2 separate regions of the Homo sapiens genome follow, and region 1 is linked to region 2. The links come from fine-mapping of genetic effects on gene expression. A gene starts in region 2. The other region holds a variant in brackets. All regions are shown on one strand. Distances are from middle to middle. Region 1 overlaps FBXO31 (F-box protein 31). Region 2 holds the start of FBXO31 (F-box protein 31).

Region 1 (5,000 bases), 42 kb before region 2:
ACAAGATGAGCCGGGAACATTCCAAAATAGAAGAGGAATACAGGCAATTAAAATACAGTGATAGGCCAGTGCAATGGCTCACAGCTATAATCCCAACACTTTGGGAGGCTGAGGTAGGAGGATCACTTGAGCCCAGCCTGGGCAACACAGTGAGACCCTATCTCTAAGCCATAAATAAAATAAAACATAGCGATAAAACTACAAGAATTCGGCCGGGCGCGGTGGCTCGCGCCTGTAATCCCAGCACTTTGGGAGGCCGAGGTGGGCGGATCACCTGAGGTCAGGAGTTCGAGACCAACCTGGCCAACATGGGGAAAACCTGTCTCCGCTAAAAATATAAAAATTAGGCAGGCATGGTGGCAGGCGCCTGTAATACCAGCTACTTGGGAGTGAGGCTGAGGCAGGAGAATCACCTGAACCCAGGAGGCGGAGGTTGCAGTGAGCCAAGATCATACCACTGTACTCCAGTGTGGGGGACAGGGCGAGACTACATCTCAAAAACAAACAAAAACTATAAGAATGAGAATAGTGTGGTACTGACATGTGGACAGACATATGGATCAGAGTATCAAGTCCAGAAATGAACCAAGTATACAGGGTAACCTAGGACAAAAGCAGCGCTACAAATTGATGTAGGAAGTGTGGTTATCACGCATCCAGTGTGGAGATAACAGATCAGGTCTGCACAGAACCAAGGCTGGGGCTAAGCCTTACATTTCACATCAGAATAGATCCAACGGAACCAGACACAGACACAAGAGAAAAATAAAAGCATGAGCTCATTTGTAAACATATGTGCTTCAGGGAGAGATCTCAGGATGGCACTAAACTGAGAGTCTTTTAAAGAAAGATGGATACATCTGCTTATGTAAAAATTAAAAATACGGCTGGGCGTGGTGGCTCATGCCTGTAGCCCCAGCACTTTGGGAGGCCAAGGCGGTAAGATCACTCGAGCCAGGAGTTTGAGACCTGCCTGGGCAACAAAGTGAGACACCCTCTCTCTTAAAAATTAACATTAAAAATAAAAAATTCCATGGATGGAAAACACACCATAAGAGAAATCCAAAGACAAAAAAAAGGAATAAGAAAAAAACCTGGCAACTCCTATCTGGAAGGGCTTCGATTTCCTAATAGTTAACAAGCTCCTACAAACCCACTTGAAACCCGCCAACACCAAACAGAAACAGAGGCACAGGCTATGACCAGACAGTTCATGAAACAGTTCATAAAACCACAGAGAGCTCCTGATCCCAAGACACTAGGCTGGTCTCACTCAGAATAAGGGAAACATAAACTCCCCCCATCAAGATTCCAGCAATACCTTCCCTCTCACCCTCACTCCTGGGTGTTTCTCTCATTTCCACAAGGAGCACATGTTGTTATATTTACAATCAGGAAAAACACTACTCCAGTTCAAAATCAGTGAGCCCACACACAGAAGTAGGCTTACAGAAACTTTTCCTAATCCCAAAGTATATAGTACCAGAAATGTAATATGGTTTTCTTTTTTAAGGGCTCAACAGCTGAGGAGTTTCTATTCTTGAAAAATCTGTTGACATTTTTCACTTAAATGTGAACCATAAGGCCAGGAGCAGTGGCTCACACCTGTAATCCCGGCACTTTGGGAGGCCGAGATGGGTGGATCGCCTGAGGTCAGGAGTTCGAGACCAGCCTGGCCAACATGGTGAAACCCCATCTCTACTAAAAATACAAAAATTAGCCAGGCATGGTGGCAGGTGCCTCTAAGCCCAGCTCCTCAGGAGGCTGAGGCAGTAGAACTGCCTGAACCGGGAAGGCGGAAGTTGCAGTGAGCCAAGATCACGTCACTGCACTCCAGCCTGGGCAACAGAGCGAGACTCCGTCTCAAAAAAAAAAAAAAAAAAAAAAAAAATTGAACCACAGCAATCACACACATACGTTGTGTTTCTGTATATAAAATCAAATCTAAAATAACAGCATAATTAAAACATTTCCGTTACTGATCATCTTCACATGCCATCTATTCAAGAAAACAGGAACGTCACTTACTTGCAAAGAATTCCGAGAAACAGGACATTTGGTTCATCTCAACCTTCTCTGCAGTCCTCTGGCTGATGGGGAAACCACCACAACTCAAACTAGCTAAGAAAAGCACACCCTGGCCGCGCGCGATGGCTCACACCTGCAATCCCAGCACTTTGGGAGGTCAAGGTGGGAAGACGGCTTGAGCCCAGGAGTTTGTGACCAGCCTGGGCAACATGGCATAACCCCGTAGCATGGTAGCATGCCTGGCTAATTTTTTGTTTTTCCTTTTGAGGCAGGGTCTCACTCTGCCACCCACATGGGAGTGCGGTGGTGCGCTCATAGCTCACTGCAGTCTCCACCTCCTGGGCTCAGACAATCCTCTCACCTCAGCCTCCTGAGTAGCTGGCATGCCACCATACCCAGCTAATATTTTTGGTTTTTGTAGAGACAGGGTCTCACTATGTTGCCCAGGCTGGTTTTGAACTCCTGACTTTAAGTGATCCTCTTGCCTCAGCCTCCCAAAGAGCTGGGAATACAGGTGTGAGCCACCGCACCTTCCTTCTTAAGAGTATTTTGAGAGGGCAGTAAGACTTAGATCCTTGAAAGCTAAAACTCAAGGGCAATATTAAAATACTCAGGCAAACAATCACACACAGGCTTCCCCGCTGCACTGGCACGATCCGGAAGCCTCCACACGGTCTGCTCAAGGATGGGAAACACAGGAACTCTGGGTGCAGCCCTCGGGTCTCCCTGCAGCTCACATCCTAGAAGCAGCCTCCCAGCAACCCCTCAGCAAGTGGATGTGCCCGCCAGAGGGGCAAAGCAGAGCTAACTGAAGAAACGGCCTGTGTGGTTCGTTCGTTCTGCAGGGGGAGGGGAC[C/T]GGCAACCTGCCCGCCCGCACGATGCTGTTCCTCGAGTGTGCCGGATGCACGGTCTGCACTGACAATACCGGCTGAACCATGTGAAACAGCCACCATGCAGGTCGCATGCTGCTGACTTCTCTCCCGCATGGGTCTGTACTTTCCCCGTGGGGAAAGGAAAGGTCCGCACCATATGAACACAGGGCCGGCTGGTGGGCTCACCTCCTGCCTCCCGCCGGACATCCTGTGGTGGTCCGTCTGGTTGCACTTGGTGGAGAACTCATCCTTCTTCACAATCTTCAGTGTTTGCAACACAAGGAAAGAGAAGAGTGAGGAACAGAGTCCATCACAGCATCCCCCACCCCAGGCAGGTGGCCACGACCCCTCCCTCACCACACCCACCAAACCCCACTGCAGGCACCCAAGATGCGACCAACGCGGTGCCAGCGGAGGGAGCTGAGTCTCCCTGAGCAACACTCCCCCAAGAGCAGGAGGCAGTGGCACATCTGAGAGAGTGGCGTTTGCATTTCCCAGCGTGACACAGAGCAGCAAAAGGGCTGCATCTCACACACAAGGTGTGGCAGATGACACGCTGTGCTCACCGTGGGGGCCACTGCCAGACCAGATCAGAGAACAGAGAGCGCACTTGATTCCACACTGATATTCTTGCAAACAGGAAAAAAAGACAGAGGAACTGAAGTTGCAAAGAAACAGCGGCTCTAACTGAGAGCAGAATCAAGAGGGGTCCAGCAAGTGACCGCTGCAGAGTCCACTGCGCCACGGAGGCGTAAACAATGCACAGCAGGGCAGGGCGGAGCCTCCCTCCCACCCGCCGATCTGCTACAGCCCAGGTCTGCAGCTGAGAATAGCACGGCAGGCCTGGCTGGAGCCCACACAGGACAGCCCTGGGACAGTGAGGACCCAGCCCCGCCGCTGCACACACCTGGATGTGGCCGTGGTGGGGCCCTTTGTGGCCGTACATGCACTCCACTGTGGCAGCCTTCCTCTCCATCAGGTGGATCCTGAACAGAGGCTTGAATCTCATAGGGTCATCGACGTGGGGGTCATGGGGAGGCAGGTACATCCACCCGATGATGAACAGGCCGTCCACCTACAGGAGGAGATGGGCAAAGGTCCATGAGTGGCTCCCGGGCCAGAGCAAGGGCGGCCCCGCACGGCTCCCCGCACTGCAATGGCACAGAGAAGCTCCTGCCAGACCAGCACATGGGACCTGCACGCCCACCCTCGAGGTGCCTCGAATCCCAGCACTATCTTCCAGCTCTGAGATGCAGGTGGACACCAGGAGGAGGCAGAATAATCCAGAAAGTGACACGGGGTGAGGTGCCGACCAGACAGAGGGAAAGGGGGTGCATCTCCCAACAGGAAAGAGTGAACAACAGCAGTGCAAGGGCCTCGTTCGCGTCCTGAGCTGAACAAATTGCCATTCAAAGGAGGCTTTGAGATGATCAGGGAAGCATCCCATGGCCTGGGCAACAGGCAACACAAGGACCGTGTGCCACTTTTGTCAGGTGTGGCAGTGACACGGAGATGCAGGAAACACCCCCTTTCTTAGGGCGCTGCCCGGAGGGACGGACAGCTGAAATGCCACGGGCCTGGGATTTGCTTCAAAACCGAAGTGCAGGGGAGGAGAGAGACGCCAAGACCCCGGGAGGGGCGCTCAGGAGCGGGAAGAGCCGAGGAGTGCGTTGCCCGTGCGATCTCGCGTGTCCGGGCGCCGATCGTGCAAATGCAGAGGCGGGTGGGCCCCAGCACGCTCTGGCCACAGCAGCCACATGCTTATAAGGAAGGACAGCCTAGCCTCACCCCCTTCTGGGAGAGCTGGGACCCATGAGACTGCCAGCTCCAGCAACCAAGGAGAGAATTCCATCATTTCTGTGGCTCACGAGCCTGGGTCAAGCGTGAGCTGGTGCTGTTCTCTCACAGACTCCACTTTCCCCAATTATCCACTGCTTTTTGTTTTTTGGGGTTTTTTTTTTTACTCTATTACTCACTGCCAGTAAGTAAAACAATTACCCTTCCTCCACTAAAAGAAAGGAAAGCAATCTGCCCACCCTGTGAGCTGCCGGGCTGGTCTCTCAGAGGAAACATCCTAAAAGCAAGGCTGGAGCACGCGAC
Region 2 (5,000 bases):
TTCACCCTCCAAGCACCTCCGGGAGCAGCACTTCCCACTCATGCTCCCAACAGGACTTGGGAAGGTGAAGCAGCTTGTCCAGGATCTCACAGCAGATAAACACGAGCCTGGGCTGGGGCCCAAGTCAGCTGACTCCAAATCAGGGGCCTCGACCATTAAGCAACAAAAATAATTTATGACGAACTCTGTCCGGGAGGACTTGGAGAAAGGGTTCTTCTCATGCAGACCTCCTTGGGGTGCAAACTCAAAGAGCCCGACAACAGGCTGCAAAGGTTTCATCAACATGCAGTCCTACAAATCCACAATCCCACTTGAGGAACTGCACCCTACCAGCCAGCGTGGGGGCTCGCGCCTGTAATCCCAACACTTTGGGAGGCCGAGGCGGGTGAATCACAAGGTCAGGAGTTCCAGAGCATCCTGGCCAACATAGTGAAACCCCCGTCTCTACTAAAAATACAAAAATTAGCCGGGCACGGTGGCACGCATCTGTAGTCCCAGCTACTTGGAGGCTGATGCGGGAGAATCACTTGAACCTGGGAGACGGAGGTTGCAGTGAGCCAAGACCGCGCCACTGCACTCCACAGCCTGGGTGACAGAGTGAGACTCCGTCTCAAAAAAAAAAAAGAAGGAAGTGCATCCCACCGAGACAATCTCAGAAGTTCCCAAGGATACATGTCAATCTCCTAAATTTCTATAAAATGCACAAAGCAGTCTTCAAAGCACTGTTTATGCATGGAAAAAATGCAGACTTCAAAGCTTATCAGTGAGGGACGAGTCTGTGCTACATGCAGGGAGTGAAATACTATGTAGCATTGTTTACACTACACTGTCTCTAAGAGAATATATATTGCATTATATCCTTTAGGGAAGAAGGTACACACGACTCAGAGGTTTTTTAAAATGTTAAGAGTGGTTTATTTTTGACTGCTGGGGTCTCTGATGGTATTTACTTTGTTCCTTTTGCTGTTCTGCATCGCTTGGATGTTTTCTAACCTGTCCTTTTTACCTAAATATGAGCTGCTTGAACATCAAAGAGCTGTCAACCTTTAAACAGAGAGAGCCTTGAACTCCAGATTAAATAAACATCTCCTCCTGTGATCTGTTACATCCAATATTGCTGAAGGCAAAAGTCCAGCCCGCACCGCTGTGATCCATCCGTCTCTCTACGCCCCCACCATCAGGAGCCCCCGACACTGGGCTTCCCCTACTCCCGTAATTTTTTTTGTTGCTGTTGTTTGAGACCAAGTCGCACTCTGTCGCCTAGGGTGGAGTGCAATGGCCCAGATGTTGGCTCAGTGCAACCTCCGCCTCCCGGGTTCAAGCCATTCTTCTGCCTCACCCTCCCGAGTAGCTGGGATTACAGGCGCCCGCTACCACGCCCGGCTAATTTTTGTATTTTTGTAAGTAGAGACGGGGTTTTACCATCTTCACCAGGCTGGTCTCGAACTCCTGACCTCAGGTGACCCGCCCGCCTCGGCCTCCCTAAGTGCTGAGATTACAGGCGTGAAACCGCGCCCGGCCTGCTCCCATTTCTTCAAGTTCACCTCGTCTCTGGTCAGGGCCAGCGGGGCACCCTCGGCTCGCCTTCAAGACAGGGGCAGAGGAGGCGGCCCCCAGGCGTCAGCTTAGGCCCCGCGCAGACCTCGAGGGATCCCAGCCCCAGCTCCCGGCACGGCCTCGGCCCCGTGGTGTCCCGTGCCCCGCGTCAGGGCCTCTTCGATGCCTCCCTGACGCCCTCAACCCCTCCCTACCCCGTCTGCCTCTCTTGGACCCCTCGGACCCTCCCTAACCGCCTCAAATACCTCCCTGGCCCCCTCAACGTGGTGTCACCGCGGCCGCTCCCCACCCACACCCAAAACACCACATCGCCGGGCCCCGCGCCCAACTGGTGGCCCCCGGCCGGGGCCACCGCCCCCGCCACTCCCAGCTCCGAGGCCTCCACCTGGCAGGGACCCCCCGCCCCTCCCGGCCCCGCCACCCCCGCGCGCTCACCCTCACGGCAACGCCTCCTCCAGATGGTGTCGGTGTGGAGGATGCGCCGGAACTTCGTGCAGACCTGGGCCAAGCTGGGTAGGTCCGTGCCCGGCAGCGACGCGAAGATCTCCACCAGCAGCTCGGGCGGCAGCTCCAGCAGCGAGCAGCGCGGGGGCGGCGGCGAGGGGCCCGCGCACAAGCCGCCCCCGACCCCGGCGCTAGCCTCGATGCGCTCCTCCTCGGGGTCTGTGTCCGGCTCGCTGTCGGCCGCCGCCGTCTCGGCCGGGCCCCGGCGCTGCTGGCGGCGCCGACATCCGCGCGACGGGCCCACGCCGCAAAGGCGAGCACACACCGCCATGCCGCCCAGTGACGGCCACTGCTGCCGCCTGTGCGCACGCTCCAGCGCGGCCCCGCCCCGCCAGCGCCGAGCCACGCCCCCGCCGCAGAGCTCGCCACGCCCCCTGGAGAGCCTAGCCCCGCCCCTACGTAGAGCTCCGCCCCGGCCGCGCCACCCCCTCCCCGCGGGGCGGCGACCTCAGAGACCCCGCACTGCTGCCCTCCCCTCCAGCGTGAGGGCGCCGCCCGTGACGGGCATGAGAAAAGAAAGTGGTGATGCCGAGTGCAAAACGTTAGACTGCCCCGTGTGAGGCTCGAACTCACGACCTTCAGATTATGAGACTGACGCGCTGCCTACTGCGCTAACGAGGCTGCTCGGCGACCACTTCGCGCCGCGGCTTTTGTGGAGATAGGGGTCGCCCCTCGCGCCCGTGCGTCCCGCTTCCGGCGCCCGAAACTGTGCCGCGCCGGCCGGTGAGTAGAAAGATGCGCCTTACAGCCTCCAAATACAGAGGCAGCAGCCAGAACCCCAAAGGGCGCCTAGAAGCCCTTTTGTCCATTGAAACAACGCGCGTTCCATCGTCTCCGCCTTATGGTAACCAAAAGGCCCGAGCTGCGGAGCTCTGCAGGGACCTTCGGGGATCCCGAGCTCCCTGCGGAAGCCCCGGGGAGGGCTTGGAGGGGCGGCGGCCGGCGCGGCCCAAGAGATCCGGGGATGCGCGCCCGGTCTGGAAAGGGAGGCCCTGCCATGCGGCGCCGCCCAAAGGGCGCCTGTTCCTGCAGCTGCTGGGAGCCGCGCACGCCTGCTCCAGCTGGGCTCCGCCGAGGCCGCTGAGCGGGGTCGTCTCCCAGGTCCGCGGGTGGTGACCGCGAAGGCGTCCTCTCACCTGAGCAGCCGCGCACGTCGCCGTGGGCTCGCCTCGGACCCCATCTCTTGGAGGCCCAGGCGGGAGTATCAATCGAGGCCAGGAGCTCGAGACCGGCCTGGGCAATACAGCGAGACCCTGTCTACAAAACAAAATTTTAGAAAGAGAAGCTGAGACGGGAGGATCGCTTGATCCCAGGAGGCCGAGGCTGTAGTGACCCGTGATGGTGCCACTGCACTTCAGCCTGGGCAACACAGCGTGACCCTGTCTCCAAAACAAACAAAAAACAAAAATAGCCACAAATGGCTGGGCGCGGTGGCTCACGTCTGTAATCCCAGCACTTTGGGAGGCGGAGAAGGGTGCATCACCTGAGGTCAGGAGTTTGAGACCCGCCTGACCAACATGGTGAAACCCTGTCTCTTCAAACAAACAAACAAACAAACCACACAGGCCAGGCGCAGTGGCTCACGCCTGTAATTCTAGCACTTTGGGAGGCCGAGGCGGGTAGATCGGTTAAGCCCAGGAGTCGGAGACCAGCCTACCCACATAGTGAGACGCCCCCATCTCTACAAATAATTTAAAAAATTAGGCCGGGCGCGGTGGCTCACGCCTGTAATCCCAGCACTTTGGGAGGCCGAGGCGGGCAGATCATGAGGTCAGGAGATTGAGACCATCCTGGCTAACACGGTGAAACCCCGTCTCTACTAAAAATACAAAAAATTAGCCAGGTGTGGTGGCAGGTGCCTGTAGTCCCAGCTACTCGGGAGGCTGAGGCAGGAGAATGGTGTGAACCCGGGAGGCAGAGCTTGCAGTGAGCCAAGATCGTGCCACTGCACTCCAGCCTGGGCGACAGAGCAAGACTCTGTCTCAAAAAAAAAAAAAAATGGTTTCAACTAATAACATCCTGCTATCTACCAGGGAGATCAGCCATTAAACAAGTAACCACATAGATAAATACATAAATTATAAATTGTAATGCTCTAACAATAAGTAAAACTAACAAGATCTTATAGCAGAGACCAGACTTTGGATGATCAAAGGTTCTTTGAGGAAATGACATTTATAAATCAAAGGAAAATTTGGAGTTAGCCAGGAGGAGAACACTTGATGGGAGAATGTTCTAGAAAAAAAGGATAGCGGCCAGGCCTGGTGGCTCACACCTGTAATCCCAGAACTTTGGGAGGCCAAGGCGGGCAGATCACCTGAGGTTGGGAGTTCAAGATCAGCCTGGCCAACATGGTGAAACCTTGTCTCTACTGAAAAAATGCAAAAATTAGCCGGGCATGGTGGCGGGCACCTGTAATCCCAGCTACTCAGGAGGCTGAGGCAGAAGAATTACTTGAACCCGGGAGGTGGAGGTTGCAGTGAGCCGAGATTGAGCCACTGCACTCCAGCCTAGGCGACAGAGCAAGACTCTTTCTCAAAAAAAAAAAAGAAAAGAATAAAAGGACAGCTGGTTGTCCCTGGCTCATGTAGTAGGCGAGGCCAGGAAGGGAGTTTTCAAGGCAATGGCACAGACGATGGTGAGAAGGAGCATCACTTGCCGGAGATCAGGGACCTCAGGAGGCCTGAGGGAAACAGGAGGCTGGTTCAGTCCAGGGTGTGGTCTGAGCAGAAGCTGAAAATATAGGATGGAAATGAAAAATGACAAGAAAAAGAGATAAAATATAGGTTGGAGTTAGAATGTGAACTCGTGGAAGACAGATGAAGCCCTCGCAAATTCGGGAATGACACAGTGATGAAAGTGGTGTTTTGGGAAGCCAACTCAGGCTTCAGTGAGCAGCGTGGTATGCAGATGAATTGTATGCAGGACGATTTTATGTG

What was found.
Region 1: its variant is fine-mapped to the expression of FBXO31 in whole blood (TOPMed, PIP above 0.99).

What each region holds. Positions count from the first base shown.
Region 1 is chr16:87,339,791-87,344,790 of GRCh38, forward strand. FBXO31 (F-box protein 31) reads right to left here. Exons shown (of 9, transcript NM_024735.5): 4 at 3,808-3,975; 5 at 3,087-3,161. Among named protein-coding and RNA genes, the nearest start is that of C16orf95-DT, 25 kb to the left of the region's middle. The variant C/T (reference allele first, on the strand shown) is at 2,885.
Region 2 is chr16:87,381,413-87,386,412 of GRCh38, forward strand. It overlaps FBXO31 (F-box protein 31), which reads right to left and starts at 2,364. Exons shown (of 9, transcript NM_024735.5): 1 at 1,993-2,364. The coding sequence starts at 2,332. TRM-CAT6-1 (tRNA-Met (anticodon CAT) 6-1) reads right to left here and starts at 2,682; the gene lies at 2,610-2,682. It overlaps LOC124903747 (a long non-coding RNA gene), which reads left to right and starts at 2,521. Exons shown (of 2, transcript XR_007065168.1): 1 at 2,521-2,784. RefSeq lists silencers at 1,720-1,959, 2,100-2,759 and enhancers at 2,167-2,820, 2,821-3,472.